Homo sapiens: one gene and its partners. The protein of the gene in region 7 purifies or fractionates together with the protein of the main gene of each other region. This does not show direct contact. Each region holds a gene or a part of one and is shown on either strand. Other genes may lie near its edges. The genes, in order: USP34, SHQ1, CHD9, MEX3C, PPRC1, VANGL2 and EPB41L1.

Region 1 (3,500 bases), on a different chromosome or scaffold from region 7:
ATTTTGAAAGAAGGTAAGAGGGGCCGGGCAGGGTGGCTCACAACTGTAATCTCAGCATTTTGGGAGGCTGAGGCAGGTGGATGACTTGAGCTCAGGAGTTCAAGACCAGCCTGGCCAACAGGATGAAACCCTGTCTCTACTAAAAATGCAAAAGAATTAGCCAGGCATGGTGGCAGGCCCCTGTAATCCCAGCTACTCGGGAGTCTGAGGCAGGAGAATCACTTGAACCTGGGAGGCAGAGGTTGCAGTGAGCCGAGATGGCACCATTGCACTCCACCCTAGTGAACAAGAGCGAAATTCCGCCTCAAAAAAATAAAAAAAAAAACCCAAAACACTGAAATCTGAAATACAGAAAAAAAAACATACAATTCATTAAATAACAAAAATATGAATGGTTAAATTTACTAGTAATTGCTTAATACATTCTCTACCAAAATAACTTTTATTTTAAGAGATGAAGTCTTGCTATGTTGCCCAGGCTAGCCTTGAATTCCAGGGCTCAAGTGATCCTCCCACCTCAGCCTCCTGAGTAGCTGGGAATACTACAGGCACACATCACCATGCCCTGCTAAAATAACACTTTCTAAAGGATAATATTCAAGACAGGTGAAAGTGCCCTTACACAGGCACGACTACGACTAAAAGATCAATATATCCTTTCTGGCAAGCAAACAGTATGAAAATAATGAAAAATGTTTATATTTTTTGACACAGTAAACTCACGTCTAGAAATCTAAAAGAACCAGGGATGTAGATAAAAGATTTAAGTAGAAAGATGTACATTTGCGGCATTATTCATAATATGGGAGAACTGGAAACAGATATATTAAATTTTATATAAAATGAAATCTTATACAAAAACATGTTTTCAGCCAGACGCGGTGGCTCACACCTGTAGTCACAGCATTTTAGGGGGCCGAGGTGGGCAGATCATGAGGTCAGGAGTTCAAGACCAGCCTGGCCAACATGGTGAAACCTCATCTCTACTAAACGTAACAAAAATTAGTCAGGCATGGTGGCAGTTGCCTGTAATCACAGCTACCCAGGAGGTTGAGGCAGGAAAATCGCTTGAACCCGGGAGGCGGAGGTTGCAGTGAGCCAAGATCAGGCCATCGCACTCCAGCCTGGGGCAACAGAACAAGACTCCATCTCAGGGGGAAAAAAAAAAAAAAGAAAATCAGCCAGGCGTGGTGGCTCATGCCTGTAATCCCAGCAGTTTGGGAGGCCGAGGTGGGTGAATCACTTGAGGCTAGGAGTTTGAGAACAGCCTGGGCAAAACAGTGAAGCCCCATTCCTACAAAAAACACAAATATTAGCTGGGCATGGTGGTACGCACCTGTAATCCCAGCTACTTGGGAAGCTGAGGCAGGAGAATTGCTTGAACCCAGGAAGAGGAGGTTGAAGTGAGCCAAGATCATGCCACTGCACTCCAGCCTGGGCCACAGAGTAAGACTCCGTCTCCAAAAAAAAAAAAAAAATCAATTCAGGAGAACCGGACAAAGTAGCTCACACCCTGTAATCCCAGCACTCTGGGAGGCTGAGGCAAGCGGATCACTTGAGGCCAGGAGTTTGAGACCAGCCTGACCAACATGGCGAAACCCCATCTCTACTAAATATACAAAAATTAGCCCGGCATGATGGCACATGCCTATAATCCCAGCTACTTGGGAGGGTGAGGCACAAGAACTGCTTGAGCCCCCCAAGGCAGAGGGTGCAGTGAGCCGAGACTGTACCAATGCACTCCAGCCTGGGAGACAGAGGGAAACTGTTTCCCAAAAAAAAAAAAAAAAAGGCAGCCAGGTGTGCTGGTATACACACCTATAGTCCCTGCTACTCAGGAGGGTGAGACAGGAAAATCACTTGAGCCCAGGAGGTCAAGTTATAGTAAGCAATAATCACTTCATTGCACTCCAGCCTGGATGACAGAATAAGACTCCATCTCCAAAGGGGGGAAAAAAATTCCAACTTTAGATTAAATGTCTACTGAAAAAGTTATGTTACTAATTGATTTCGTACCTATATACTCATAGTATCTAAAAAGCTCTGGAAACATGTAGTTTTATTAAACGGTTCACTGCAGAATAACAGTATTAAGAAAGATTCTCAGCCGGGTACAGCATACCCCAACACTTTGGGAGGCTGAGGCAGGAGCATCACTTGAGCCCAGGAGCTTGAGGCTGCAGTGAGCTATAATTGGGCCACTGCACCCCAGCATGGGTGATACACTGTCTCTTAAAAAATAATCAAAAATCAAAAAATTTGAAATTTTATTCAATGAAAAAGATTCTTATTCAGCTATACTTATTACCACTTTTGAATTCCTACTACAATTATCACAGAAATTTGTCTGAATTTTTGAAGATACATAAAACACGGTCAGTAATTTTCACTTTGCCAACTGAACAGTGGTGATTCAGATAGATCATCATAAAATTTATACAATGTTAACTAGTAAGAACTTTTAGGCCAGGCAGGATGGCTCACACCCCTAAACCCAACACTTTGGGAGGCCAAGGGAGGCGGATTACCTGGGGTCAGGAATTCAAGACCATCCTGGCCAACATGGTGAAACCCCACATCGACTAAAATTACAAAAATTAGCCAGGCATGGTGGTGCATGCCTGTAATCCCAGCTACTCAGGAGGCTGAGGCAGGAGAATCGCTTGAACCCAGGAGGCGGAGGTTGCAATGAGCCGAGATCATGCCATTGCACACCAGCCTGGGCAACAGGAACAAAATTCCTTTTCAAAAAAAAAAAAAACTCTTAGCCTAATCTGGGATTAAGTCCTGTGGTTCCACCAAACAGTCACATGTGACCCTAAGCAAGTCACATAAATTCTCTAAACCTTAGTTCCCTCATCTGAAAAGGATGACAGAGTACCTCCCTCAAAGAACTGATTAAATCAGCAGCATGCAAAGCATGTAAAGTACTTAAGTACCCAACACAAACTATTCAATAAAGTAATCTGCTTTAAAAATAAAACACACTGAAAGGCCGAGGCAGGTGGATCACCTGACATCATTAGTTCAAGACCAGTGTGGCCAAACTGGTGAAAATTAGTCTCGACTAAAAATACAAACATTAGCTGGGCGTGGTGGCAGGCGCCTCTAATTCCAGCTACTCAGGAGGATGAGGCAGGAGAATCACTTGAAGCAAGGAGGTGGAAGTTGCAGTGAGCTGAGATCGTGCCATTGCACTGCAGCCTGGGCAACAGAGTGAGACTCCGTCTCAAAAACACCACCACCAACAAAATAAACACAACAGAATTATTCTGCAAATACAGATATTGGAGTAGCTGAGTTCCATCTCAAATTTGACTATGCAGGTTGACAGGTGATCTTGGCAAACTACTTATCCTTTCTGAAGTTCAACTTTTTCACCAAATGGTATTGGGATACAACACTTGCTCTTGCCTATCTCACATGAATTATCCATTTTGGACAACTTGGTAAACTATAACCCACCAAACGAATACACAGAGTAAAATCTACAACACATA
Region 2 (3,500 bases), on a different chromosome or scaffold from region 7:
TGAAATATTCTGTAGTTTCTGAAGCATTCCTACATTGGTTTTGAAAGCTCATTCCATTTAAGATCAATCCTTCTTTGGAGCCAGGGTTATTCATTACTTTCAACTATGGAACACTATACTGACCTTTATAATAAAAAGTGTGAACACTGACTGCATTTTGAATTATAAGTAGGCATGAATTCATTCTTGGAAAACACTAAATGCCAAACCAGAGCTACCTTTATTTAAATTATGGGGTGTTCAAACAAATGAGCCTCTTCAGCGGCAATAATGGCATCCCCGTGCCATCCACCTGTACAAAGACAGGTGACGATTCTCATCCAGAACATGTCATCTCTACAGCTTCTGGCACAAATTCTAGACAACCCAGCCCTCAGTTTTAGCACTAACTAGCCACAACCCAAATTAGTCACAGAACACACTGTACATGGTACATAGAGGGTTCAGGTTCATTTTTAGCAGAGGCCTCCAGTGTGTTACTTCAAGTTTTATGTTACTATCATAACACAGCTGATAAAACTATTTCTTGTCAGAGTGATAATGAATAAAAATTAAGTCTCAATTTCAATTCTGACCTACTAAAACTGGGTAATTGATTCCTGTGTAAGTCAAGGCAATCGAATTTATTTTTGGTTATGCAATCATAGTACTGATTACTTTTCCAATGAAAGTCAAAAGAACTAGATTACTTCCCAGAATAAAAAGTAACAAGCAATAGTCTGTATATGTGAGTGAGAGTGAGAGTGTGTGAGTGTGTGTGCAAACAGGCATGTGGAGGTTTTGCCAATTCTCCATCTGGAAGCCATGATATAACAGGATAATCGCAAACTGCATTCTCACTGGTTTAAGTCCATGAATAATGCCCAGATAATCTAGCATGACTTAAAAAAGAAATGAATTGTGACGTGTAACTGAGGCTCACACAGTCATTTATAGTAGATTGATTTTCCAAGGTACTTTTAGCAATTCAAAAAATATCTTAGATGGAAGGCAAGAAGAAATAACACATGAAAAAACAAAGCAGTTTGTTTCCCACTGTTAAGTTAAAGAAGATAGATTTCTCAATGATAGCTCTTTCATCCTATAATCAACAATCCTTCAAAATAAAATACAGCTAGTCTAAACCAACTGGATGAATAAAAAGGCATCTTTCATCTAACCATGATTCATTTTTACAATTACTGTCTACTTTAAAATAATCTATTTCAAACATGATTTTCTTCCCCCATCCCCACCACCAGGGCAAGAAGACTACAGGTTACACAGAAAGCGAAGTACACTTCCAGGTGAGACAAAACATTTGAGATGTGATTCTCTTCTTTAGGCCAGTGAAGTCACCTGGAGGTAGAAGGAAGAACTTCCTTTCTTTCCCCTTCTTATTCTGAAGTCTGAAAACCAAGCTCCCAGAAACACTTTTATCTAAGGGCAAAGGAATGATGAGTCTCCCCAGGGGGAGAATATAAGAAATGACCATAAAGTACTAAAAGTGACTTTTAAATAAATGTGCCAGAACTAATACATACAAATGGATGTTGCCCCCTTCAAAGTCATTATCTTGGAAATTATATACTTATTCTAATGATGATACTATGGGCACTTTGGAATTTGTTTCAGAGCCCAGAATTTTCCACATCCTTAAAGCTAACGAGTGTTTGTCTTTTCAGGTTGAATTTAGCAAGTCAAAAGTGCTCAGAGTAGCTGAGCTTTTTGTTGGAAAATCTTTCTTGACATGCCGAATCTAGGTTACATGTCCCCTCCTAAACGATCCCTGGACTTCTCCCAGCAGAGTACTTTTCACTCTCTTTGGAATTGCTAACTTACCCATCATCTGTCTGACAAAACTGTAAACTTCAACAGAGCAGGGAACTTTTCTGCCTTCTTTATTATTAGACCCACAGTCCCACCATAGAGCCTAGAAGATTATAGGCAGCCAAGAAATACTGAATGATGCAGCTATTATAATGTAAAACGGTTTGCAATACTATGTGTGCCTTCTCTGTTTACCTTCCTTACTCCTCTCGGAAAAGAGTCTTTATTATGCCTCTATGCAATTACTTATCTACATATGTCTTATACACAGGAATTCTATACTTTAAAAGTGGTTGGATTCATTTTTCATTACTTATTTATATACAGTAAAAAAGCAAAAATCATTATTATATCTTCACAGACTAAAAACTTACAACTTTTTCCCTCCCAAATTTGCAAGTACAGTAATATCTTACCCAGTTGCAATATCTTTATAGTGTCCCTGTAGGCCTTCATCACCAGCTTGAAATGGCGATAGAGTGGGTAACACAACACCCTTCTTCCAAAAGACACCATGATATCATGAACGTTAGTCCAAGTCTGTGAAGTGTCATTTTAATAAGCAGTCATTTCCACAAAATGTTACACAAACAAAAGTACACAATGAAATAGGAAGCTTTTCTCATTTAAAAGCTGCAAGTTCGGATCATTGTGAAGCCAAGTAGAAGAGAAACATAAAACCATGAAATAAGATTCTTTTTGTATACTTTACAATAAAACAGAATCTTAGTTTTTGTAATTTCTCACACTATCAATACATCACAAATGTCACAAGAAAGCTTTTAAATAAAGTCCTAAAGATTACAAATAAGAATCTAAAACACATGGCATTAACAAAATACAGATGCACATAAAGGACATTTTAATATAATTTACATTTCATGTTTTTGTCAGCTAAGGCTATTCAAGATGGCACAGATCAAAAATGTAGAACTCACCGGGAGTGGTGGCTCATGCCTGTAAAGCACTTTGGGACTCCAGGCGGGTGGATCACCTGAGGTCAGGAGTTCGAGACCTCCCTGGCCAACATGGCAAAACCCCGTCTCTACTAAAAATACAAAAATTAGCCAGGTGTGGTGACAGGCACCTGTAATCCCAGCTACTCAAGAGGGTGAAGCAGAGAATAGCTCGATCCTGGGAGGCAGAGGCTGCAGTGAGTCAAGATGGCGCTACTGCACTCCAGCCTGGACAATAGAGTGAGACTCCATCTCAAAAAAAAAAAAAAAAAAGGCCGGGTGCGGTGGCTCATGCCTGTGATCTCAGCACTTTGGGAGGCCGACGGGCGGACCACAAGGCCAGGAGATCGAGACCACCCTGGCTAACACGATGAAACCCCGTCTCTACTAAAACTACAAAATTAGCCGGGCGTGGTGGCAGGTGCCTGTAGTCCCAGCTACTCGGGAAGCTGAGGCAGGAGAATGGCGTGAACCCAGGAGGCGGAGCTTGCAGTGAGCCAAGATCGCGCCACTGCACTCCAGCCTAGGTGACAGAGCGAGACACCATCTCAAAAAAAAAAAAAAAAAAAAATACATAGAACTCTTTAGTAAAGTATGTTCAGTTTCCTCTCCTCTTTTTCTTTTTTTTTTTTTTTTTGCACTGGACATGGGTAATACAAGACATTTACTTGAGTAATTTGCTTTTGCTTATCAAACTGATTTCTAGGAAAAAAGGTGTTGTATCTTGAACGGTAT
Region 3 (3,500 bases), on a different chromosome or scaffold from region 7:
CCTATGTTTCCACATAGTAAGAATATCTACCATTGAAGCAATATAGAAAAATACTAAAAAATGACCTATCCCAATAAGAAATTATTTCTTTACCTTTGGCCAATACGAGGCTGCCAGCATATATCCACCTTGTAAGATATAAGCAGACTCTGGTGTCCCATTGTTCATCTGAAAACTATCCTGAGTCTCATCCTGGGTAGTGCTCAGTGACGCGACGCTTTCTTCATCATAGGCTTTCATGTGAGTAGTACTTTCTGCTAAAAACAATTATAATCATTTTTTAAAAAGACTACATAAAATAGTTTTATATATAAGGATTTTACATAATTATTCAGAAACACCTGAAAATGAAAATGTTAGAAGTAAAAACAAATGATAAAAAAAGAGAAAAAATCACCTAGAATATAAAAAAAGCACCTATCATTATTATTAAGAGACAGGGTCTTGCTGTGTTGCACAGCCTGGACAGAACTCCTGGGCTCAAGCAATACTCCTGCCTCAGCTTCTCAAGTAGCTCAGATTACAGGTGTGCACTACGCCTGACTTCATTACTCACTATTTTTAAAATGATTCCTGATTGGTAGACTTCATCTGGATTGGCAGAACTATAAATACCTGATGAGGATACCATAATTCTCTTGATTAGGTGACTCTTGTAACTCTTAGAATTGGGCATGTTTCTTGCGGCAACCCCGAAAGTTATGCCTATGGAGTTGTTACAAGAGACCCCAGCTCCTGCTCATGTTTAATTGGACTCATTTTCTTGCCCCTGAACTGGTGGACTGCTGCAAGGGTTCCTGCAGAAGGGGACCACCAAACACTGTTCTGCTGACAAGCATTTGTCATGGCTGACAAATAAATGGCTTATGATATTCTCATTAGCTTAAGACTCTTGGTGACTGCTATATAATATTATCTTTTACTTGTTCACTAATCAACTTGTTCCTGGGAAAAATATTCAATTTAAGACAATCACAAATAAACTACTGTGTAAAATTTCTAATTCAATTGCCTGATTAATCTACTGTGTAATGCCTTGAATATTAAACAGGGAATTTGTATCAGTAACTAGTTTTCTTCCCAATAGTGCTTTCCTAAGAACATTTGTATATATAAAACTTAAGCAAACAGGCCAGGTGTGGTGGCTTATGCCTGTAATCCCAGCACTTTGGGAGGCTAAGGCGGGCGGATCACCTAAGGTCAGGAGTTCGAGACCAGCCTGGCCAACATGGTGAAACCCTGTCTCTACAAAAATACAAAAATTAGCTGGACATGGTGGTGGGTGCCTGTAATCCTAGCTACTCAGGAGGCTGAGGCAGGAGAATCGCTTGAACCTGGGAGACAGAGGTTGCAGTGAGCTGAGATCGTGCCATTGCACTCCAGCCTGGGCGACAGAGCGAGACTCCGTTTCAAAAAAACACTGTAAGCAAACAATTTTAAACATCCTTAAGTTACCTGAAACGAGTTCTTTTCATTTTCACTTGAAAAGTTATATTAGGCCAGGCCTGGTGGCTCATGCCTGTAATCTCAGCACTTTGGGAGGCTGAGGCGGGTAGATCACCTGAGGTCGGGAGTTTGAGACCAGCCTGACCAACATGGAGAAACCCCGTCTCTACTAAAAATACAAAATTAGCCAGGCATGGTGGCACATGCCTGTAATCCCAGCTACTTGGGAGGCTGAGGCAGGAGAGTCGCTTGAACCCAGGAGGTGGAGGTTGAAGTGAGCTGAGATTGCGCCATTGCACTCCAGCCTGGGCAACAAGAGCAAAACTCCATCTCAAAAAAAAAAAAAAAAAAGAAAAGAAAAGAAAAGAAAAGAAAAGAAAAGTTATGTTAAAAAAGTAGAATTATTTTATGCATAGTACCTCGTTTTTGGGCTTCTTCTTCATCACTGTCACTTTCTTCTGATGAAGATGAAGAGGAGGAGGAGGAGGAAGAGGTGGAGGAAGAGGATGAAGAAGATGCTGAAGAACAAGATGAAGATGAAGAAGAACTAGAGCCTGATCGAGAGTGGGAGCAAGAAGAGGATGATGAGGAAGAAGATGATCTGGAAGAACAAGATGATCTCTCAGAATCTGAGTCAGAATCAGAACTAGATTCTGATCCCCTTTTGTGGACTCTTGGTTTCTTAGAAGCTGGGTTTGGAGTTAGGGGTTCTGTTCTGGCTGCAACCATGCGTCTGTCTGTTTCACATTTTCCACCAGATTTCTGGTCTCCAGTAGCCTGTGGTAAAACACCATTCTTTGGACTTACAGGCTCAGATTTTATTAGTGTCCTGGTTTCCACAGAAGACATAGATTCTTCTTCAGAAGACTGAGGCTCCTCTTTAAGGTTTTCACTTTTAACTTTCATCTCCTCTAGAATAATACCTTTAGCATCTAGGAGCCTAGGTAGAGAGGTAAGAGGAGAAGCAGAAAGTGCTACTTGATATTGCTGTAGAAGTGGGGTAGAAGTCCTTGAATGAGCCATCTTACTTTGACTGTAGTTCCTCTGAGCTGCCATAAATGAGAGTTCAGGATCACGAAGAATGTGATAGTCTGTTCGGCTCACCCCGTGTTTGGCAGCACCAATAAGCAAATCCCTATCATGAGGGCCACATTCCCACCAGACTGGTAAATCTGGATTTGGATGGCAAAGCTTCAAGCGTTCAAACAACTGTGGATGTCGAAGGGCCTGTTCCCGTACTTTCCTTAGAAGTTCAATGCGATACAAAGTCCTAGAAGCACGTTCTTCTGTGATGGGCTGGATAAAAATATTTGGATCCACCAATTCTACATATTGAAACAAGGACAAAAATATTAATCTCAAAAATCCTTTATTTATAAATAAATCATTATAAATACATCTTTATATATTTATAACAATACCATTTCTAAAATGTGCCTCCATGCAATATCACTGTATAGTTTCCAGAATTTCTTTTCAGTGAGGAGAAATTCAGTGAGGATTTTGAAATTTTGAAATTTCAGTAAAAGCTTTAAAAAGGAGAAAGTTTTAAAAGTAAGTACTAAAAATCATGTAACATAAAATACTGGATGTTAATGTAAAACATAAGATTATTTTGGAAGTACATTAATAGAACTGGGAATTTTAAGAAATTCCCTATGAGCGATGCATTTAATAACATTTGTCTTAATAACACAAACACTTGCTCAAACTCACTTATAAATTAGAAGTGTTCAGGGTTGTCCAATCTTTTGGCTTCCCTGGGCTGCATTGTAAGAGGAATTGTATTGGGCCACATATAAAATACACTAACACTAACGATAGCTGATGAGCTTAAAAAAATTGCAAAAAAAAAAAAAAAACTCATAATATTTTAAGAAAGTTTACGAATTTGTGATGGGCCGCATTCAAAGCTGTCCTGGGCCACAGGTTGGACAAGCTTGTGTTAAGTGATACTCCATAAACAAATGTAAGCTGGCATATCTCAAACTGCAAAAGGTAAGAGGACATTGGAGTGAACTCACAGGGGCAACAAGGGCTTTCTCAAATTTCTA
Region 4 (3,316 bases), on a different chromosome or scaffold from region 7:
ATAAATGGAGAAATATTTTTGTCAATTTTTCAGAAGGTAGTTTTTACTGAAAGGTAAACTGGTGCTTTTGTATTAGAAAAGAACTTGTTTTACAGATTTGGTGATAAAAAGACAAAAATCCATAAACAAAGGATGCAAACCAAGTAGAATTTAAGTTGAATTCAGGATTTCAAGTAATAATGTATAAAAAAAGTCATTAACTATTTACAATTAGATCAGTAGTGGTTTGTGGTCAACTACACAAATATGCAACTAAATCTACAACCAGCCAAATTTCCAGTTTACTGTAATTTAACACTCATTTAAAGAAAAAACTAAACTTGGACAGGAACATAAGCGACACATTCAAAACCAAGAGCACACACACACAAAATAACTACAAGAGTGAGCACAGATAGCTGGTTGGGGAATAGGGAGTCTATAAAAGAAAATTTTCGATTCTGTTAACTAATCTTCTAGTATAAACTGATGATTATATGAAAAACACCAAGGAGAATACATTCAAGTTAATGGAAACAAGTCTTTATTAAGTAACTTTTAATATCAGAAAAATAAAACTCTTATAATTCTCTTTACAGCAAATATATAATATCAGTGCTTTGGCCATCTTAAGTTAAAGGCCCTTTATCATAAAATATATGGTTTTAAATTTTACTCAAATTGAATTTATAATCCCTATGACTTCCCTACATATACATAACAAAAGAGTGTAGTAAAATTAGCAAATACTAAACTATATTGATAATTTATCATTCTTAGTTTGTGGTTTTTAGAAACAGTACACGCACCTAATATATGTCGATTCCTTGGCTTATTAGTTGCAGTGTACAATGCAACAAAATACAAAATACATGCTTGGTGAACATTCGTTCATATCTACAAGACGGCAGCTAGAGATTAGGTTTCAATACTGACCATTTACTATCCTACAAGCAATTAGCATTACATCATAATATGCCATCAAGGCAACTTTTTTTATACTGAAAAAATCAAAATAAAAACCGTTATTTGTAAACTTTTATACGAAATGTAACTCTTCAAGTGGAAATAAAAAATAAAATTTGTCTATTTACTATTGAATACACATAGGATTTCAATTTTCATTATACCGAGAAAAAAGCTCTTTTGTGTTGGGAAAATAATGCTTCAAAAAATAATTAGTAGAAAAACCCACTAGTATAATGTTTTGTCCTTTCAATGCCAGCACAGATTTGGGAACATACTGAGGATGAAGTTATAGACATCCACAGGTGAAATGTACGAGTATATTTTAAATAAATCTTTCCTTGTGATTGGAAATAGTTTTGAAATGAAGTAAACTGATTGGAGGTTGTCACAGCTGCTTTTGTGAATTATGCCAAGGGCATCATTATCCCTTTCTCCCTCCTCCCTCCCCTAAATTACTAAAAAATAAAAATATATTTATAATGTGCAAGACAAATATGGATTGAACATAAAATGTTTCACATTTTGATCTATAGTCTAAAAATTAACAGCTCGATCACACTAATGAATGGAATGTTTGCATCCTCAATTATCAGCCAATATAGGTGCCATCCCAAAGCCCTTCCTGATATGGGAAAACCCAGGTGGCCATTTCCACATTCACCAAGAGAGGCAATGGGCAGGAATTCACAATTGCATTCCTGATCCACTGATCATACCAGCCTTGAGCACTCTGGGCGAGATGAAAGTTGATGTAGCAGTTTTTGTCCCAAATTATAACCAGTGATCTAGTAAACTGCCATCAGCCCTATCATTACCAATAAGTAATCACAATGCATTAAAAAGTTACTTGCAATCCTGCAGAATTAGGCATATGTTGTTGTAAAATAAAAAACAAACCTGTTTTGTCAAAACTGGCAGTGTAAAGAAGGCAGCACTGGAAGTGTATGAATCGTCTGTAATGCCAAGTACCCTCCATAAACTCTTAAAGTGGTTAGGCTTTGGGACCCATTGTTTTGAAATCTTAGACGTATACACTTTTTCATAGGCTCACACAACCTATGATTATCTTCACTCAGCCAAGTTGAACTTCAGCTTTAGCAATTCTTATATAAACTATGTCTCTGGGTCTACAGGATAGTACTAATAATTCAAACCAAACTAATAGACAAGAGACCACTTAGGTTTAGTGTTACCATAGCAGCCTTTTATAAGTTTACTAACAACTTTAGCCTAATCCCAATAAAGCCTGATAACAGTCATAAGAAATCATTAGGAAGTTTACTGGGGGGTACCATTATACCCATGCCTTTACGAGTCCATATAGAGATATAGTATTTATGTATATATATATAGTTAAGAGTGAATTTGGATTGCCTGAGTAACAGCTGTCTGGCAAACTGGACATGATGGCGTTCTCTTTTCACAGATCTTGTTGGCACATTCCATGCAGAAGAGGTTGTGGCCACATGGAACTAGGGCAGCAATAACCTCATTCTCAAAGCAAATCACACAGTCGTGCTTTCGTCTTGATTCTGGAGGTGAGCTAGAGGTGGAACCACCATTGGAAGAGGAGTAACTATTGGTACCATTAGAAAAAGCAGGGATATATATTGGAAGGCCAACATGGTTGCCTGTACTAGGTGGGTCGCTCCTAACCCTCCGAGCAAGTGGATGTTCTATGCTCTCAGGAAATGTAGGAGACAGACGAGGAGTAGATGGCTGACTTCCTCTGCGCTGAGTCTTCATGTTACCAGAAGGATCACTCCCAAAGCCAGAGAGTGGGTTAACTGGTTCAAATGGAGTCCAGATAGTTTGAGCAGATGTTGGTAAAGAGTCAAAGGCAGGAGAGTCAACTGCTAGGTCTTCTGAGCCTACAGATGGTAGTGTATCTCCAAACCAGAAGTTTCCTGTGCTAAATGGGCTTGTTGGACTAAAGTCAGCCAGCCTATTGCTTCCAAAGTAGGAATCTGTAGAGCCACTTCCTAGAGAACTGGAACTATCATTTCGATAATTGGATATCATTCTTGCGCGGCTAGGAGGAACAGGATTGGAGGAGAGCCACGCAGAGCCAAGAGTGCCACCTTCAAAGCTTACATCGGTACCATTGTAATGGAAATCATTCTCTTCATTGAGCTCTATATAGTTTCCTGTACGCATGGCAATATGCATTTCTATTTCTTCCCGTGCTCGGTCAACATTTTCAGGCATCCCTGTCACTTCAAAGACAGGTTCCTTATCTCTGCTCGGAGTTACTATGTAGGTGTGGGTCTGCTGCTGAATTCTTTTAATAGTTGCTCCTTTGGGTCCAACCACTAATCCTACCACACGATAAGGGACCCTGACTTGGACGGTGGTTTGACCGGGCAGA
Region 5 (3,500 bases), on a different chromosome or scaffold from region 7:
AGTGCTGGAGATTGTGGGGCAGGCAGCCACAGCTGGCGATGACCTGGAGATCCCAGTTGTGGTGCGACAGGTCTCTCCTGGACCCCGGCCTGTGCTCCTGGATGACTCGCTAGAGACTAGTTCTGCCTTGCAGCTGCTTATGCCTACACTGGAGTCAGAGACAGAGGCTGCTGTGCCCAAGGTAACCCTCTGCTCTGAGAAAGAGGGGTTGTCATTGAACTCAGAGGAGAAGCTGGACTCAGCCTGCTTATTGAAGCCCAGGGAGGTCGTGGAGCCGGTGGTGCCCAAGGAGCCTCAGAACCCACCTGCCAATGCAGCACCAGGTTCCCAGAGAGCTCGAAAGGGCAGGAAGAAGAAGAGCAAGGAGCAGCCAGCAGCCTGTGTGGAAGGCTATGCCAGGAGGCTGAGGTCATCTTCTCGCGGGCAGTCTACTGTAGGTACAGAAGTGACCTCTCAGGTAGACAACTTGCAGAAACAGCCTCAGGAAGAACTTCAAAAAGAGTCTGGGCCTCTCCAGGGTAAGGGGAAGCCCCGGGCTTGGGCTCGGGCCTGGGCAGCTGCCTTGGAGAATTCTAGCCCTAAGAACTTGGAGAGAAGTGCTGGACAAAGTAGTCCTGCTAAAGAAGGCCCTCTAGACCTCTACCCAAAGCTGGCTGACACTATCCAAACCAATCCTATACCAACCCATCTCTCATTGGTCGACTCTGCCCAAGCCAGCCCCATGCCAGTTGACTCTGTTGAAGCTGATCCCACTGCAGTTGGCCCTGTTCTAGCTGGCCCTGTACCTGTTGACCCTGGGTTGGTTGACCTTGCTTCAACCAGCTCAGAACTGGTTGAGCCTCTCCCGGCTGAGCCAGTGCTGATCAACCCAGTCCTGGCTGACTCAGCAGCAGTTGACCCTGCAGTGGTTCCCATCTCAGATAACTTGCCACCAGTTGATGCTGTCCCGTCTGGCCCAGCACCAGTTGATCTAGCACTGGTTGACCCTGTTCCTAATGACCTGACTCCAGTTGACCCAGTGCTAGTTAAGTCCAGACCAACTGATCCCAGACGTGGTGCAGTGTCATCAGCCCTGGGGGGTTCAGCACCCCAGCTCCTCGTGGAGTCAGAGTCCTTGGACCCACCAAAGACCATCATCCCTGAAGTCAAAGAGGTTGTGGATTCTCTGAAAATTGAAAGTGGTACCAGTGCTACAACCCATGAAGCCAGACCTCGGCCTCTCAGCTTATCTGAGTACCGGCGACGAAGGCAGCAACGCCAAGCAGAAACAGAAGAGAGAAGTCCACAGCCCCCAACTGGGAAGTGGCCTAGCCTTCCAGAGACTCCCACAGGGCTGGCAGACATCCCTTGTCTTGTCATCCCACCAGCCCCAGCCAAGAAGACAGCTCTGCAGAGAAGCCCTGAAACACCCCTTGAGATTTGCCTTGTGCCTGTAGGTCCCAGCCCTGCTTCTCCTAGTCCTGAGCCACCTGTAAGCAAACCTGTGGCCTCATCTCCCACTGAGCAGGTGCCATCCCAGGAGATGCCACTGTTGGCGAGACCTTCCCCTCCTGTGCAGTCTGTGTCCCCTGCTGTGCCCACACCTCCCTCGATGTCTGCTGCCCTGCCTTTCCCTGCAGGTGGGCTTGGCATGCCCCCCAGTCTGCCCCCACCTCCCTTGCAGCCTCCTAGTCTTCCATTGTCTATGGGGCCAGTACTACCTGATCCGTTTACTCACTATGCCCCCTTGCCATCCTGGCCTTGTTATCCTCATGTGTCCCCTTCTGGCTATCCTTGCCTGCCCCCCCCACCAACGGTGCCCCTAGTGTCTGGTACTCCTGGTGCCTATGCCGTGCCTCCCACTTGCAGTGTGCCTTGGGCACCCCCTCCTGCCCCAGTCTCACCTTACAGTTCCACATGTACCTATGGGCCCTTGGGATGGGGCCCAGGGCCTCAACATGCTCCATTCTGGTCTACTGTTCCCCCACCTCCTTTGCCTCCAGCCTCCATTGGGAGAGCTGTTCCCCAACCTAAAATGGAGTCTAGGGGCACTCCAGCTGGCCCTCCTGAAAATGTACTTCCCTTGTCGATGGCTCCTCCCCTCAGTCTTGGGCTACCTGGCCATGGAGCTCCTCAGACAGAGCCTACCAAGGTGGAGGTCAAGCCAGTGCCTGCATCTCCCCATCCGAAACACAAGGTGTCTGCCCTGGTGCAAAGTCCCCAGATGAAGGCTCTAGCATGTGTGTCTGCTGAAGGTGTGACTGTTGAGGAGCCTGCATCAGAGAGGCTAAAGCCTGAGACCCAAGAGACCAGGCCCAGGGAGAAGCCCCCCTTGCCTGCTACCAAGGCTGTTCCCACACCAAGGCAGAGCACTGTCCCCAAGCTGCCTGCTGTCCACCCAGCCCGTCTAAGGAAGCTGTCCTTCCTGCCTACCCCACGTACTCAGGGTTCTGAAGATGTGGTACAGGCTTTCATCAGTGAGATTGGTGAGTGACACACAGTTCCCCCATGTAGTCCCCAAGTTGGCTGGGGGACTCTAGAATAGGATAAGCCACCCTGATGAGGCTGGCCTTTGTTGGATTTCTTTGGAGGAGTTTTTTTGTTTTTATTTTGAGATGGAGTCTTGCTCTGTCTCCAGGCTGGAGTGCAGTGGTGCAATCTCGGCTCACTGCCTCCCAGGTTCAAGCAATTCTCCTGCCTCAGCCTCCCAAGTAGCTGGGACTACAGGTGCCCGCCACCACGTCTGGCTAATTTTTCTATTTTTAGTAGAGACGAGGTTTCACTATGTTGGCCAGGTTGGTCTCAATCTCCTGATCTCGTGATCCGCCTACCTCAGCCTCCCAAAGTGCTGGGATTATAGGCGTGAGCCGCTGCACCATGCCTTTTTTTTTTTTTTTTTTTTTTTTTTTTTTTTTTTTGAGATGGAGTCTTCCTCTGTCGCCCAGGCTGGAGTGCAGTGGCGTGATCTCGGCTCACCGCAACCTCCGCCTCCCGGGTTCAAGCGATTCTCCTGCCTCAGCCTCCCCAGTAGCTGGGATTACAGGCACTCACACCCACGCCCGGCTTTTTGTATTTTTAGCAGAGATGAGGTTTCACCATGTTGGCCAGGTTGGTCTCAATCTCCTGACCTCGTGATCCGCCTGCCTCAGCCTCCCAAAGTGCTGGGATTACAGGTGTAAGCCACCGCCCTTGGCCTGTTTTTGTTTTTAAGAGATGAGGTCTCACTGTGTTGCCCAGGCTGGACTTGAACTCCTGGGCTCAAGTGGTCCTCCCACCTCAGCCTTCCAAGTAGCTGGGATTTATAGGCACAGGTGTGTGCCACCGTGCCTGGCTGTGGAGGGTTCTTCAGAGGCAGAGCCCTGGGTTGGTTTGAATCCTTCATGCTTTGTGCTGCTACCTTGGTTCACTTAGTACAGAGGGCAGGGGGAGTGGAAAGGGAGAAGTGAGATGATTTGGGGGCTTCCTGGGACCTGTGTACTAAGTTGATAGGGGCTCGTTTTCAATCCTGTGTTGTGTGCCTC
Region 6 (2,304 bases), on a different chromosome or scaffold from region 7:
GACTGGTTGGTACTTACCTTGCAGAGCACATCCTGGGATAAGATCCCCAGTGTCTCCCCTGGGAGGCTCCCCCTCTGTGTAGCACCAGCCCTGGGAATGATGGAGCCTAGTGATCGGGGTTTCTCCTGCTGTCCTTTCTGCAAAAGTTCACTTGTTTACCCACCGCATGCTAGAGAGGAGCTCATTGGCCAATGCTTACCTTGTCCCCAAAGGGGTGGGTTGTGGAGCTCACTTAGGCAGGGCCTCTGGCTGGGGCCAGGGTTATGAGATAGGCCTGTATGAAATATGTCCTGTTCTGGGGGTCTGTCTCTTTTCTTCTCTTCAAAAACTTTGTGTCAGAGAGTCCCTTCTGAGTCACATAAATACCTCACTATCCTGGAAAACAGGGCCTGGATGGTGACTGGGGTCATTGCCTTTGTGGACAGGATGGAGTGTGGTGTGGTCTGAGGAGCAGGTTGGGGTGGGGGAGAGGGAAAGGATTTGGGATCTTAGTTGCTGCCCTAGGTTAGGGGCTGGGGAGTGTTTATTTTAAGATCCTGCCATGTTTTTAATCACTGTGATTTTTTTTTCATTCCCCTTTCCTAAAAAAAATTTTTTGCCTCCAACTCTCTAAGCACTAAGGGCTGTGCCTGAGAATGGTAGCATTTTGGTCTTTTGCTTCAGAACTGTGGTATCTTTGTCTTTTTTCATTATTATTATTATTATTATTATTATTATTACTATTGTTTTTTAAAATGTCAGGATGAATTGTCAGACATATGGCCATGTGTTTGTCCTCTGCTTCTCCCCTGTGGGAAGTTGTCTCCATGCTGTGAACTGCTGTGGGGTGTGCAGCTGACTCAGTCCCTCTGAGCAGTTTCCCCACTGTGTCTGTCCCATCATGCGCTGGATCTGCTCATTCTCCTGCTGTGGGGGTATGCCCACCTCTTACCCCCTTGACACCATAGGGCTGCTGTGGCTGGGCCTCACCAGCACTGTCTTTTGTGTGACTCATGGCATCCTCGTTCATCCCCACCGTGCCTAGCAGGCCTTCCTTTTCACCACCTCGGAACGCTTGCCTTTCCTCCCTCCACAACAGGACGCTGTGCCTCAGTCCTTCACCTACCTCGCCACTCTGCCACTGTCCCCATTGGTCCTTTCTCCTAAACTGGTCTTTGTGCTCTCTTTGTTTTTTCTTATTTCCCTCTTGTCTCTCATTTTTTCTTCCCATTCCCCTCCCATTTCAGCCCTTAACTTTTCTCTTTCCCATCTCCACTCAGTATTCCAATGGCAAACCCTGATGATGTAACACCTGCGATGAGACATCGGACTCTCCGGAACTTTCTCATCTGACACGTCTTTTTCCCAGGGTTCGTACTTCTCCTCCATTGGTCCCAGGCTAACTCCCCTGTTCCTCTGTGGTGTCTGTCAGTCCGTCTGTCTTCTCTTTCCTCTGCCCTTCCCACAGGGCAGTATCTGCTGATGGATTCAGTCCTGGTGTGTGATTGTTGTGATTTGTTCTTCCGTGCGCAAAAGGAAGAGGGCTTTTTGAGTCCCTTCCAAGTGAGATTGTAAATGTAGAATTTTCCACTGTTGGATCTAGATTTTTTTTCCTTTTTTTTGGGGGGGTGGGGTTACAGAGCTGAGACCTTGTGCATGCATGTAGAAAATTGTAAAATGTAAATTTTTTTTAATATATAAAAAGCTTGTTTCTACAGTTTGCAGTGGATCTAAACATTACGGCAATTTTAGGATTTTTTTCTTAAACATAGGAACTAAAACTGTACAAATTTTTTTTATATAAAATAAAGACATTTGACTTTTGTGGGGGCATTCTGTTGCTTTTCTTTCTTTACAGGAATGGGAGCAAATGAGGGCCAGGGAATAATGAATATATTCCTTGTTAGGGAGGGAATGGGCAGGAGGGGGCAGTGTGAGCTCATCATTGCTCTGCAGGCCTTCAGGGTGTGTTGGAGAGAAATGGGAAAATGAAAAAGGAAATTGCTTATTCTGAATCCTGATTCTAAAGAGAGAGAAACAACAATGTGAGGGCTTAACCACTTCCTGGTGTAGTTGTCAGGATAGAGAAAGAAAGATTACTTCCTGGGTCCACCCTCCTGAGCAAGCTTGTGTCTGTATGGCCTCTAGGGCAGGAGTGGGTTTCTAAAACGTATTTCTAAAACATAAAGTGCCATAGGAATTTCAGGGGATAGTTGAGATTTCAGTCAGTGGTGACAGCCCATCACAATTCATTGAGACAAGTTTCTGTAGTATATATATTAGTTCTAAATATGTAGAGAGTTCAGTGCTCTGTTGTCACTGTAA
Region 7 (3,500 bases):
CTATGAGCTCCTCAAAGGAAAGGACCAAACCTATTCACTCTAAATACTATACCCAGGACCCAACACAAGGCCTGGCACACATATAACACTCAGAAAATATAAGTAGAACTAACTTGCCTGGAGGCCTGCCCCAAGGTGTTCTGGGAGTATCCACGGTTTCCCTACCCAAGTCCCCACTTTCCACCTTTTTTTTTTTTTTTTTTTTTTTGAGACGGAGTCTTGCTCTGTCACCAGGCTAGAGTACAGTGGCGGTGCAATCTTGGCTCACTGCAACCTTCATCTCCCGGGTTCAAGTGATTCTCCTGCCTGAGCTCCCGAGTAGCTGGGACTACAGGCGCCTGCCACCATGCCTGGCTAATCTTTGTATTTTTAGTAGAGACGAGGTTTCACCATGTTGGCCAGGATGGTCTTGATCTCTGGACCTCGTGATCCACCTGCCTTGGCTTCCCGAAGTGTTGGGATTATAGGTGTGAGCCACTGTGCCTGGCCTTTTTATTTTTTATTTTTTTTATTTTTTTTGAGATGGAGTCTCGCTTTGTTGCCCAGGCTGGAATGCAATGGTGTGAGCTCACTGCAACCTCTGCCTCCCAGGTCCAAGCAATTCTCCTGTTTCAGCCTCCCGAGTAGCTGAGATTACAGGTGCATGCCACCACGCCCGGCTAATTTTTGTATTTTTAGTAGAGATGGGGTTTCATCATATTGGTCAGGCTGGTCTCGAACTCCTGACCTCAGGTGATCTGCCCGCCTTGGCCTCCCAAAGTGCTGGGATTACAGGCATGAGTCACCATGCCCAGCCCCCACTTCCCACCTTTAAGCCACTCTCTACAAACCTAAAAACAATAATGATGGGTACAATTTCTTAAGGTGCTACTATGTGCCACAGAATATTTTCTAGGCATGATCTCATTTAGTTTTCCCTAGAACACAGCAAAGTAGGTACTATGTATTTTGTAGAAGAGGAAATAGGCTCAGGGAGTTAAATAAGTTGCTTAAGGTCACCCATCCATTCATTCAGATATTTATGAACCACTTCCAGTGTCCAGAGAACAGCCCACGGTGACTGTCAAGCCGAGATTTGAACTCAGATCTGCATAATTCTGAATCTCCCCAGTGACCCATGTGACTTCCGAACATCACCTACAAACTCTAGTGTGTACATCCTGGGGAGAGACTTGGGCCCTGAAGGGTGCTGATTTAGTAGGTCTGGGGCAAAACCTGGGAATTTTCGTGCTTGCTTAACAATCTCACAGGCGACTCTGATGAAACGTGGTTTGTGCACCACATTTTAAGCCCTATCTGCTTGCTACAGGACTATATAGGGCCAGTTTTCATTGATGTTAAGGGCACCCATCAATCCAATAGAAATGGGGACAGTGGAGAGTGCCATGTGGTTAGATTGTCAATCAGCCCAGAACCTAGTAGAACCAAAAGAATGACCAAGAACGATGCCCTGGCCTCCCAGCAGATAAGGCATCATCAGCTCCACACTGCAGTCATAAGACACTATTCTCCTAGTATGATGATGACCAGTGTAAGGGACACCAGCCTGCAGCAGAGGGATGCAGGGGAGGAGGGTGAATCAGACCTGCACTGCCAGGCCCAAGGTTAGACCACAGGTTAGACTGGTGGATTGCTAAGCTTCTTGGGTAGGTGGCCCAAACCATATGGCTAAACCTGGGACCCCAAAAGACCACGACTCAGGGAAGTTGTGGGGAATCCAGAGAGTGGTAGTATCACATCTCAAGTGGGAGTGAGCTCTAGGTTGGGACTAAGCCACCAAGAGCTGCCCAGGGACAGCACTGGTCTTGAGGGGCCAGCCTGGTGCAGATGAACTTGGGATGCATCTACCATTTTCCTGCTCATTCTGCAGAACCCAGCATGCCCACTCCCCCAGTTCCCTCTGAAGACCATTCCCCGCCCAGCCCTCCAATTTGGGCCATACCTCCATCAAGGCTGCGGGACATGGTGTACCGTTTGCTGGAAGAACGCTCAAAGAAGGGTGCAGGCCGGTCAATGAGGGCGCTGGCCTGGCGAGTCTGTGCCTGGGTCCTCCCACTGTACCGGAACTTGGAGCCCATCACCAGGAAGCCCTTGGGTGGGGGCTCAGGGGACACCAGCCTGCAGCAGAGGGATGCAGGGGAGGAGGAGGAATCAGACCTGCACTGCCAGGCCCAAGGTTAGACCACAGCTGGCCTTTCATCCCACTACTCCACCAACTACAACAATTCAAAGTGGTCCAGGAAGGGAGGGACTTGGGGAAAGGGTGGAGGACTTTCCTAGAGTTCTCACTAACTCCTCCCCCTGCTCCCCTCCATACACATGGCCTCTGCCCCATCCCCATTACCCCATCCAAGGTCAGGCTCACCGGAAGAATGTATGATGCTCGATGCAGACCTTCCACAGTCTCTTGGCTGACCGGTGGTTTGGGAGCTTAAAGCCAATTGTGCTCTCAAATTGCTCATACTGGAAAACCAAAAGGGCAGGTTAGAGGCAGGGCCTGAGCTCACTCTCGCCACTAGCCCATTCTTTGTGTTTTTTATTTTATTTGTTTAATGTTTTTTTGAGACACAGGGTCTCGATCATTTGCCCAGGGTGGAGTACAGTGGCGCAATCATAGCTCACTGTAACCTTGAATTCCTGGGCTCAAGAGATCCTCCTGCCTCAGCCTCCCAAGTAGCCAGGACTACAGTCAGACGACACCACACCAGCTAATTTTTTGTAGAGAATGAGTCTCACTATGTTGCCTAGGCTGGTCTCCAACTCCTGGGCTCAAGCAGTCCTCCCACCTCAGCCTCCCAAAATGCTGGGATTACAGACGTGAGTCATTCTTTCTGAACTCTTCTCAGGCATCTGCGACTTTGGCCTGTTCATTCACTGAATCAATAAGGGTGATTGAGCCCTTACTCTGTGACGGGTCCAGTGCTAAACACTAGAGATACATGGAGACCAAGGCAGAAGATTCTAGTAGGGGAAGGGGACCTCCAATAACAAATAAGCAAACAAGATAATTGCAGACACTGATCAGGGCTACAAGGGGAATGAAGGGAGATGTGTGGTGCAGCAGAACTGGGAAGGCATAGGGGCTCCTGTCATCTAAGGAAGAGCAGGGGATCCCCTCTAGACCTAGATCTAGGTGATCTTGAGCTGACATTTGAAGAATGGGAAGGAACCAGCTATGTGAGAAGCGAGAGGGGGAGATACTTTCAGGTAAAGGAAACATCAAATGCGAAGCACTCAGGCAGGAAAGAGCTCGACTTATTCAAAGATCTCAAGGCCGAAGAGGCTAAAGCACCTTGGGCATGGGGCAGTGTGGCAAGGGATAGGTGGGAGAGGTAGGTGGCCATGGAAGGAGTTTGAAGTTTAGCTCAAGAGCTAAAGAGAGTTCCTGAAAGGTGTAAGCAAGGGTGTGGATGGGAAGGGGGAGTGGGCTTGCCATGATCTGATTTAAGGGACTTTTTAAGATCTCTCCAGCAGCTATGAGGAAAATGACCTGGAGAGCA

Evidence for each region.
Region 1: the proteins of EPB41L1 (region 7) and USP34 purify together in Homo sapiens (co-immunoprecipitation; one large-scale study listed by IntAct). This does not show direct contact.
Region 2: the proteins of EPB41L1 (region 7) and SHQ1 purify together in Homo sapiens (co-immunoprecipitation; one large-scale study listed by IntAct). This does not show direct contact.
Region 3: the proteins of EPB41L1 (region 7) and CHD9 purify together in Homo sapiens (co-immunoprecipitation; one large-scale study listed by IntAct). This does not show direct contact.
Region 4: the proteins of EPB41L1 (region 7) and MEX3C purify together in Homo sapiens (co-immunoprecipitation; one large-scale study listed by IntAct). This does not show direct contact.
Region 5: the proteins of EPB41L1 (region 7) and PPRC1 purify together in Homo sapiens (co-immunoprecipitation; one large-scale study listed by IntAct). This does not show direct contact.
Region 6: the proteins of EPB41L1 (region 7) and VANGL2 purify together in Homo sapiens (co-immunoprecipitation; 2 studies listed by BioGRID and IntAct, with this or other methods). This does not show direct contact.

The regions. Positions count from the first base shown.
Region 1 is NC_000002.12:61,461,088-61,464,587, forward strand, and holds part of USP34 (ubiquitin carboxyl-terminal hydrolase 34), read right to left. Parts: intron 1-3,500. UniProt on the Homo sapiens protein: Ubiquitin hydrolase that can remove conjugated ubiquitin from AXIN1 and AXIN2, thereby acting as a regulator of Wnt signaling pathway.
Region 2 is NC_000003.12:72,810,446-72,813,945, forward strand, and holds part of SHQ1 (protein SHQ1 homolog), read right to left. Parts: exon of another isoform or gene 2,350-3,500; coding exon 2,226-2,349; intron 1-2,225. UniProt on the Homo sapiens protein: Required for the quantitative accumulation of H/ACA ribonucleoproteins (RNPs), including telomerase, probably through the stabilization of DKC1, from the time of its synthesis until its association with NOP10, NHP2, and NAF1 at the nascent H/ACA RNA.
Region 3 is NC_000016.10:53,302,991-53,306,490, reverse strand, and holds part of CHD9 (chromodomain-helicase-DNA-binding protein 9), read right to left. Parts: intron 2,772-3,500; coding exon 1,866-2,771; intron 258-1,865; coding exon of another isoform or gene 255-257; coding exon 94-254; intron 1-93. UniProt on the Homo sapiens protein: Probable ATP-dependent chromatin-remodeling factor. Acts as a transcriptional coactivator for PPARA and possibly other nuclear receptors. Has DNA-dependent ATPase activity and binds to A/T-rich DNA.
Region 4 is NC_000018.10:51,174,050-51,177,365, forward strand, and holds the end of MEX3C (RNA-binding E3 ubiquitin-protein ligase MEX3C), read right to left. Parts: coding exon 2,302-3,316; 3' UTR 501-2,301; downstream 1-500. UniProt on the Homo sapiens protein: E3 ubiquitin ligase responsible for the post-transcriptional regulation of common HLA-A allotypes. Binds to the 3' UTR of HLA-A2 mRNA, and regulates its levels by promoting mRNA decay.
Region 5 is NC_000010.11:102,139,540-102,143,039, forward strand, and holds part of PPRC1 (peroxisome proliferator-activated receptor gamma coactivator-related protein 1), read left to right. Parts: coding exon 1-2,465; intron 2,466-3,500. UniProt on the Homo sapiens protein: Acts as a coactivator during transcriptional activation of nuclear genes related to mitochondrial biogenesis and cell growth. Involved in the transcription coactivation of CREB and NRF1 target genes.
Region 6 is NC_000001.11:160,426,867-160,429,170, forward strand, and holds the end of VANGL2 (vang-like protein 2), read left to right. Parts: 3' UTR 1-1,804; downstream 1,805-2,304. UniProt on the Homo sapiens protein: Involved in the control of early morphogenesis and patterning of both axial midline structures and the development of neural plate. Plays a role in the regulation of planar cell polarity, particularly in the orientation of stereociliary bundles in the cochlea.
Region 7 is NC_000020.11:36,189,240-36,192,739, reverse strand, and holds part of EPB41L1 (band 4.1-like protein 1), read right to left. Parts: intron 2,464-3,500; coding exon 2,366-2,463; intron 2,119-2,365; coding exon 1,943-2,118; intron 1-1,942. UniProt on the Homo sapiens protein: May function to confer stability and plasticity to neuronal membrane via multiple interactions, including the spectrin-actin-based cytoskeleton, integral membrane channels and membrane-associated guanylate kinases.